2 linked regions of the Homo sapiens genome follow. The protein of the gene in region 1 purifies or fractionates together with the protein of each later gene. This does not show direct contact. Each region holds a gene or a part of one and is shown on either strand. Other genes may lie near its edges. The genes, in order: BPTF and HMGXB4.

The links.
Region 2: the proteins of BPTF (region 1) and HMGXB4 fractionate together in Homo sapiens (co-fractionation; 3 studies listed by BioGRID, with this or other methods). This does not show direct contact.

Annotation. Positions count from the first base shown.
Region 1 is NC_000017.11:67,975,448-67,979,367, forward strand, and holds part of BPTF (nucleosome-remodeling factor subunit BPTF), read left to right. Parts: intron 1-324; coding exon 325-511; intron 512-3,920. UniProt on the Homo sapiens protein: Regulatory subunit of the ATP-dependent NURF-1 and NURF-5 ISWI chromatin remodeling complexes, which form ordered nucleosome arrays on chromatin and facilitate access to DNA during DNA-templated processes such as DNA replication, transcription, and repair.
Region 2 is NC_000022.11:35,288,335-35,292,254, forward strand, and holds part of HMGXB4 (HMG domain-containing protein 4), read left to right. Parts: coding exon 1-73; intron 74-3,920. UniProt on the Homo sapiens protein: Negatively regulates Wnt/beta-catenin signaling during development.

The sequences.
Region 1 (3,920 bases):
GCATTATACTTAGATATGCATAGAGCATGTCGGTGTGTTTCCTTGATTTCAAACCATTTGAATGAAGAACGGTTCTGTGCAGTTACCTGAAAGTAAAAGAACCTTAACAGCAACCCGGATTTATATTTTAGAACCTCAATCAGAAACAAAATTGGAAAAGTACTCTTTTGTTCTTTATGAATTGCAAAATAACCTCCAGGGTGAACCAGCCTGGCTCCAGGACTGCTTGCACAGTAAACATATATACTTGTTAGAACTTCGGAGAATATTCACATTGGAAAAACCTTAAAGCTCTGAAAATGTTTTACATTTTGTGTTTTTAAGACCTTGCCACCATGGAAGAAAGAGTACAAAGACGATATTATGAAAAGCTGACGGAATTTGTGGCAGATATGACCAAAATTTTTGATAACTGTCGTTACTACAATCCAAGTGACTCCCCATTTTACCAGTGTGCAGAAGTTCTCGAATCATTCTTTGTACAGAAATTGAAAGGCTTCAAAGCTAGCAGGTGAGCAGATGGGTTCGGTATTCTGAATTAATTCAACTCTTCACACTCTTTATACTATTCTGTCTAACGATTCAACCAGTGCAGTTTATGGTAAATTTAACCTTAAATATCTTTAAAAAAAAAATAAATAAATCAAGACTCCAGGGTTATGATCTACTGCCAAGGAGAAGTGGACAAATTGCTGGGTTTGTTGTTGATCTACTTAAAGTCTTTTTTTGAAAATTCAAGAAGTGGCCGGGCATAGTGGCTCACGCCTGTAATCCCAACACTTTGGGAGGCCAAGGCAGGCAGATCACCTGAGGTCAGGAGTTCGAGCCCAGACTGGCCAACATGGGGAAACCCCGTCTCTACCAAAAATACAAAAATTAGCCAGGTGTGGTGACGCACGCATGTAATCTCAGCTACTTGGGAGGCCGAGGCACAAGAATCACTTGAACTTGGGAGGCGGAGGTTGCAGTGAGCCAAGATCACACCACTGCATTCCAGCCTGGGTGACAATGAGACTCTCACAGGAGGTGGGGGGAACATCCCAGCCTTGTCAACATAATGAGACCATGTCTCTACAAAAATTTAAAAAATTAACCAGGCATAGTGGCATGCACCTGTAGTCCTAGCTACTCAGGAGGCTGTGACAGGACGATCACTTGTGCCCAGGAGTTCAAGGCTGCCGTGAGCTGTGATTACACCACTGCTCTCCAACCTGAGTGACAGAGTGAGACCCTGTCTCAAAAAAAAAAAAAAAAAAAAAAAAAAAAAATAAGAATAAAAGAAGAATTTCCTGAGCTGATGATTGTCACAGGACTTTAAATTCTAGCAGAATAAATTCCTTCACTCAGCAAATAACTTTTGAGAACCTGATGTGTGCCTGATACTGGGAATTTAGCAGTGAATAAATTAAAGCCCCTGCACTCTATGAGGGGTGGGTGGAGCAAGGGGGACAGTTGATAAACATCATAAACCAGGTAGACAAATGGAAAAAGACTCACCCCTACATACATCGCTATAAAATTTCCAAATGCTAAGAATAAAAGAAACTCTTAGATAAAACCGACAATCTATAAAACAAGAATTAGATTGGTGTCAGATTTTTCTGCTGTGACATTTAGTGCTAGAAGATTATGGAAGAATAAATCTAAAAGTTTAAGAAAAAATGATTGTCAGCCTAGAAGTCTGTGCAGCCAGTCAAGTTTAGAGGCAGAATAAATATATTTTCAGTCATGTGAGGACTCAGGGCATCCTTTCTTGGCAGGTATTTTTAAAAAGTGTGTGCTATTGGCCAGGCATGGTGGCTCACGCCTGTAATCCCAGCACTTTGGGAGGCCAAGGTGGGTGGATCACTTGAGGTCAGCAGTTCAAGACCATCCAGACCAACATGGCAAAACCCCATCTCTCCTTAAAATACAAAAATTAGGCAGGCATAATGGTGCACGCCTGTAGTCTCAGCTACACAGGAGGCTGAGGCATGAGAATCGCTTGAACCCGGGAGGCACAGGCTGCAGTGAGCTGAGATTGCGCCACTGCATTCCAGCCTTGGTGTCAGAGTGAGACTCCATCTCAGAAGAAAAAAAAAAAGTGTGCTGTCAAAAATAAGGAAACAAATTTTTTCCTTTTAATAATGTATCTTCCTGTAATCCCAGCACTTTGGGAGGCCGAGGCGGGCGGATCACGAGGTCAGGAGATGGAGACCATCCTGGCTAACACGGTGAAACCCCGTCTCTACTAAAAATACAAAAAAATTAGCTGGGCGTGGTGGCACATGCCTGTAATCCCAGCTACTAGGGAGGCTGAGGCAAGAGAATCACTTGAATCTGGGAGGCGGAGCTTGCTGTGAGCCGAGAAGGCGCCACTGCACTCCAGCTTGGGCGACAGAGGGAGATTCCATCTCAAAAAAAAAAAGTATCTTTTTTTTTTTTGAGACGGAGTTTCACTCTTGTTGCCCAGGCTGGAGTGCAATGGCGCGATCTCGGCTCACCACAAGCCCCACCTCCCGGATTCAAGTGGTTCTCTTGCCTCAGCCTCCCTAGTAGCTGGGATTACAGGCATGTGCCACCACGCCCGGCTAATTTTGTATTTTTAGTAGAGACCTGGTTTCTCCATGTTGGTGAGGCTGGTCTCAAACTCCCGACCTCAGGTGTTCTGCCCACCTCGGCCTCCCAAAGTGCTGGGATTACGGGCGTGAGCCACCGCACCCGGCCATGATGTATCTTTTTATTTAGGGACAGGGTCTTGCTATGACCCAAGCTAATCTTGAACTCCTGAGCTCAAGCGATCCTCCCACCAGCCTTGGCCTCCCAAAGTGCTGGGGCTGTGAACCACTGTGCTGGGCCAGAAATATATATATATATATATATTTTTTTTGAGACAGAGTCTCACTCTGTTGCCCAGGCTGGAGTTCAGTGGCACAATCTCGGCTCGCTGCAACATCTGCCTCCTGGGTTCAAGCAATTCTGCTGCCTCAGCCTCCCAAGTAGCTGGGATTACAGGCAGCCACCACCATGCCCAGCTGATTTTTGTATTTTTAGTAGAGACGGGGTTTCACCATGTTGACCAAGCCGGTCTCAAACTGCAGACCTCGTGATCCGCCTGCCTCAGCCTCCCAAAGTGCTGGGATTACAGATGTGAGCCACCGTGCCCGGCCAGAAATTTTTGTTTATTTGAGTTCAGAAAACAAGTGGTTCAGGAAAGCAATGAGAATTACTCTGACCCAAGATGACATTTATACAGCAGGCTGTAAAATGTCAGCAGACCAAATCCTAGCAGGAGAATGGAGCACTCCCCAGAGGCTCAGTAGAGCAAGAAAATGACTCATACATTAGATAATTTGTTTAAGACAGAAAAACATAAGGCTATGATTAAGCCAAAGAACGTCAGGGATAAAAATGAAAGGCAATTAGAAACGCCACTAAAAACAGAAAGTTGTGTAAGTGTACCCTGTTAGCTGGGCACGGTGGCTCATGCCTGTAATCCCAACACATTGAGAGGCTGAGGCAAGAGGATGCTTGAGCCCAGGAATTCTAGACCAGCCTGGGCAACATGAGGAAACCCCATCTTTACAAAACACAAAAATTAGCCAGGCATGGTGATGTACACCTGTGGTCCCAGCTGCTTCAGAGGCTGAGGTGGGAGGATTGAGCCCATGAGGTAGACGCTGCAGTGAGCCATCTTCATGCCACTGCACTCCAGCCTGGAAGACACAACAAGACCCTGTCTCAAAAAAAAAAAAAAAAAAAAAGGCCCTGTTAGCAAAGGACTAGGTGCTACAGAGAAAAATATTTACATTTTCGTAGTAACGTAAATAATGACATTGGGCCGGGCACGGTGGTTTACATCTGTAATACCAACACTTTGGAAGGCCAAGGCACGTGGATCATCTGAGATCAGGAGTCGAGACCAGCCTGGCCAACATGAT
Region 2 (3,920 bases), on another chromosome or scaffold:
TGATGTTGCTGCTCATCTTCAGCTGTTGGGAGAGTCCCTAAGCCTCATTGGACACCGTCTGCAGGAAACTGAGGTGAATACAACTATCAGCAGCATGACTACAGTTTCCCATATAGTTTCCCATATAATTTTGATTCATTCACTCATTTTACATACATGTATTGAGCATCTACTTTATGCTAAATTATGCCAGGTTCTCAGGATGGCGTAACATAGAAGATATAATGATAATAACAGAAATATCTATAGAGATATTCAGTCTACCTGTTAGCTCTCAAAGTTTCACTAATGATATCCTATTGAAACAATGGCACAAAAAGAAATTGGAGTACCCTGTAACTTATTTTTATTTTTTTAAAATGCAGTGGAGGCTGGGCGCAGTGGCTCACGCCTGTAATGCTAATTTGGGAGGCCCACCTGGGAGAATCGCTTAAGGCCAAGAGTTCGAGACTAGCCTGGTCAACACAGTGAGACTCCATCTCAAAAAATACATATATTCAAAAAATTTAAAAGAAATAAAAATGGGGCCGGGCGTGGTGGCTTATGCCTGTAATCCCAGCACTTTGGGAGGCTGAGGCAGGCGGATCACGAGGTCAGGAGTTCAAGACCAGCCTGGCCAATATGGTGAAACCCTGTCTCTACTAAAAATACAAAAATTAGCCAGGTGTGGTGGCATGCACCTGTGGTCCCAGCTACTCGGGAGGCTGAGGCAAGAGAATCACTTGAACCTGGGAGGCAGAGGTTGCAGTGAGTCAAGATTGCGCTACTGTACTCCAGCCTGGGCGATAGAGCAAGACTCCATCACAAAAAAGAAAGAAAGAAAGAAAGAAAAACGCAGTGGTGGCTGGGCACGGTGGCCCATGTCTGTAATCCCAGCAATTTGGGAGACCAAGGCAGGAGGATCGCTTGAGGCCAGGAGTTGGAGAGCAGCCTGGGCAACATAGCGAGACCCCATTTCTACAAAAAATTAAAAAATTAGCCAGGCATGGTGGTGCACACCTGTAGTCCCAGCTACTCGGAAGGCTGAGGCAGATGGATTGCTTGAGCCCAGGAGCTCAAAGGCTGCAGTAAGCTATGATTGCTGCACTGCCCTCCAGCCTGGGTGACAGAGCAAGACCCTATCTTTTTTAAAAAAACAAAAACAAAAAGGCAAGAAAAAGGATGAGTACAAATTCCATAGCAGTTTTGATTACTTCTGTCTCCTTCTAAGAGACTTTGAATTTTTCTCTGCATTTCCAGCAAAGTCTTGAATATTCAATTGTATAGGAGATTAAGAGTTCCTCTGTTTTGAAAATAGGTAACAAATGGAGAAGTTAAGGTTCCCAGCTCTCCATTACTCTGCACTTAAATTATACAGTGCTATATGCCCTGGGGAGATTTTTGTCCTTTTAAGCTTCAATTTCAAAAATCACTTAACCTGCACAGCTGTCGTGTTTCATTTCTATTACCATATTCAATTTCTAACAATATTGTCCCCTTAGCTAACTCATTAGTATAGTAGTTCCGCTTTCCACCAAGTTCTAGTAAGACATTTCAGCAAAGAAGTCAGTCTAAGCTACTAAAGCCATTTTTAAGCTAAGAAATTAGTGTAGGAATGTAAAACTAATCACTTGCTTCAATGTGGAAATTGAATTATTCAACAAATAAAATGCCAAAGGCCACAAGAGCTGAAGCTATATCTAAATTCTTTGGCTAGTTTCTAAAAATTTTAGCAGTAGTCAAAAGAACTTCAGCACCTTCATATAGGCTCGATATCTGAATGGATATAGATATTTCCAGAAGAAGTATTCTATGACCTTACTTATTTTTCAGATTTAATCATTCTTACGTTTCGTAAGAAGTTAGAAGTAAAAACAGTTTGTTTTAAGCGTATTCTGAATTTTCCCAGATATTTCCATTTAGTTTAGTAAGTACAAAGTTCACCCTTTTAAAGTGCAGAATTTAGTGATTTTTAATATATTCACAGAATTGTGAATCACTACTATTTCATTCCAAAACATATTGTTACCCCTAAAAGAAACCCTGTACCAGCCAGGCGCGGTGGCTCACGCCTGTAATCCCAGCACTTTGGGAGGCCGAGGCAGGCAGATCATGAGGTCAGGAGATCGAGACCATCCTGGCAAACGTGGTGAAACCCCATCTCTACTAAAAATACAAAAAATTAGCTGGGCGTGGTGGCGGGCGCCTGTGAGAGGCTGAGGCAGGAGAATGGCGTGAACCCAGGAGGCGGAGCTTGCAGTGAGCCGAGATTGCGCCACTGCACTCCAGCCTGGGCGACGGAGCGAGACTCCGCCTCAAAAAAAAAAAAAAAAAAAAAAAGAAACCCTGTACCCATTGGCAGTTATTCCCCATTCTCCCTCTAATCCACTTTTGGCCCGAATTTAATCATTTGCATAGATCTCTGCAATTTTATAATTTCCACATACCACTTAATACTTTTACTTACTTTATAATTTTATTTAAATAAACTTGTCTGTGCTTTTACAGTGACATTCATGACATCTCAAGGGTTATATTCTATTTTTTTAATGTACATCGTAATGGACATATAATTATCAAAATAATATGTTCAGTAGTAAATTAATGTTCATCATTTTAGCAGTAAAACTGGAACATACAATGCATAAGTTAGAAAATTAAGGCTAGAGGCCGAGCACTGTTGCTTGTTCCTGTAATCCCAGGACTCTGGGAGCCAAAGTGGGAGGATCACCTGAGGCTAGCAGTTCGAGACCAGCCTGGCCAACATGGCAAAACCCCATCTCTACTAAAAATACAAAAATTAGCCAGTTGTGGTGGTGCACACCTGTAATCCTAGCTACTTGTGGGGCTAAGGCAGGAGAATCGCTTGAACCGGGAGGTGGAGGTTGCAGTGAGCCGAGATCACACCACTGCACTCCATCCAGCCTGGGCAACAGAGTGAGACCCTGTCTCAAAAAAAATAAAAATAAAAATTGTGCGTGTGTGTGGCGTGTGGTGTGTGTGTATCTTAAGAAAGTTAAAGCTAGAACCCAAATTGCAGAGGGACTTCATAGACATTCTGAAGTGTGTATACTTCACTGTTGGGGAACTACAGGGGTTTTTACAGTGGAAAGGGATGAGATCAGAGCTCTCATTTACTTTTCTCTGAGAATATCTTTTATTTTAGATTGGAAGTGAAAAGAGACCAGAATTGGGGAGAAGTTAAAACAATAATCCTAGTCTAGATGTGACAAAGATAAATTAGCTATAAATAAATATAGGGCAAAGGAAATGGAACAATATTACTAATTACTGACATTTTTGGGGTTTTAGCTATTATCTTCCCTGTATACTAATGTTTTATTGAAGGCTCACTCACCCAGCTTTGGTTCAGAGTGCTTAATATGAATTATATCATTTAATTCACACTGCAGCTTTGTGAGGCAGAATTTGTTCCCCCCATTTTACAGAAGAATAAACAGACTTAAAGAGGTGAAGTCACTTTCTCTAGAGTTTAGCCCCTAAGTGGTAAAATAGAGACTTGAATTTGGAATGTGACCTCAAGGTCCGGGTTCTTAACCTCTTACTGTACTGCTGCCCTCAGAAAGTATAGGGGGGAGATGTTGACAAGGAGGATGAGGGAAAGGAAGAGTCAGTGATGGCTAGGCCTTGAGACTGGGCAGTTATGTGAATGGTGGTGACTTTGGCAGAGAAATGGATGCTCAAAGGAGGGCTAGATTTGCATGGGAAGGTTATTCTTCCTTACAGGAAGTTGAGATGGAGAAATATCCAAAAGGAGAGACCCAAAAGACAGCCAGAAATGCAGTTTTGAAGATCAAGATGTTGGTAGTAATATTCATAATTACTGATATTTTTTGAGTACTTAACCATGTATTAAGCACCATCCCAAGTATATTATATCTATTATCTCAATCCCATCTGCTGCAGATGCTGTTAGTATC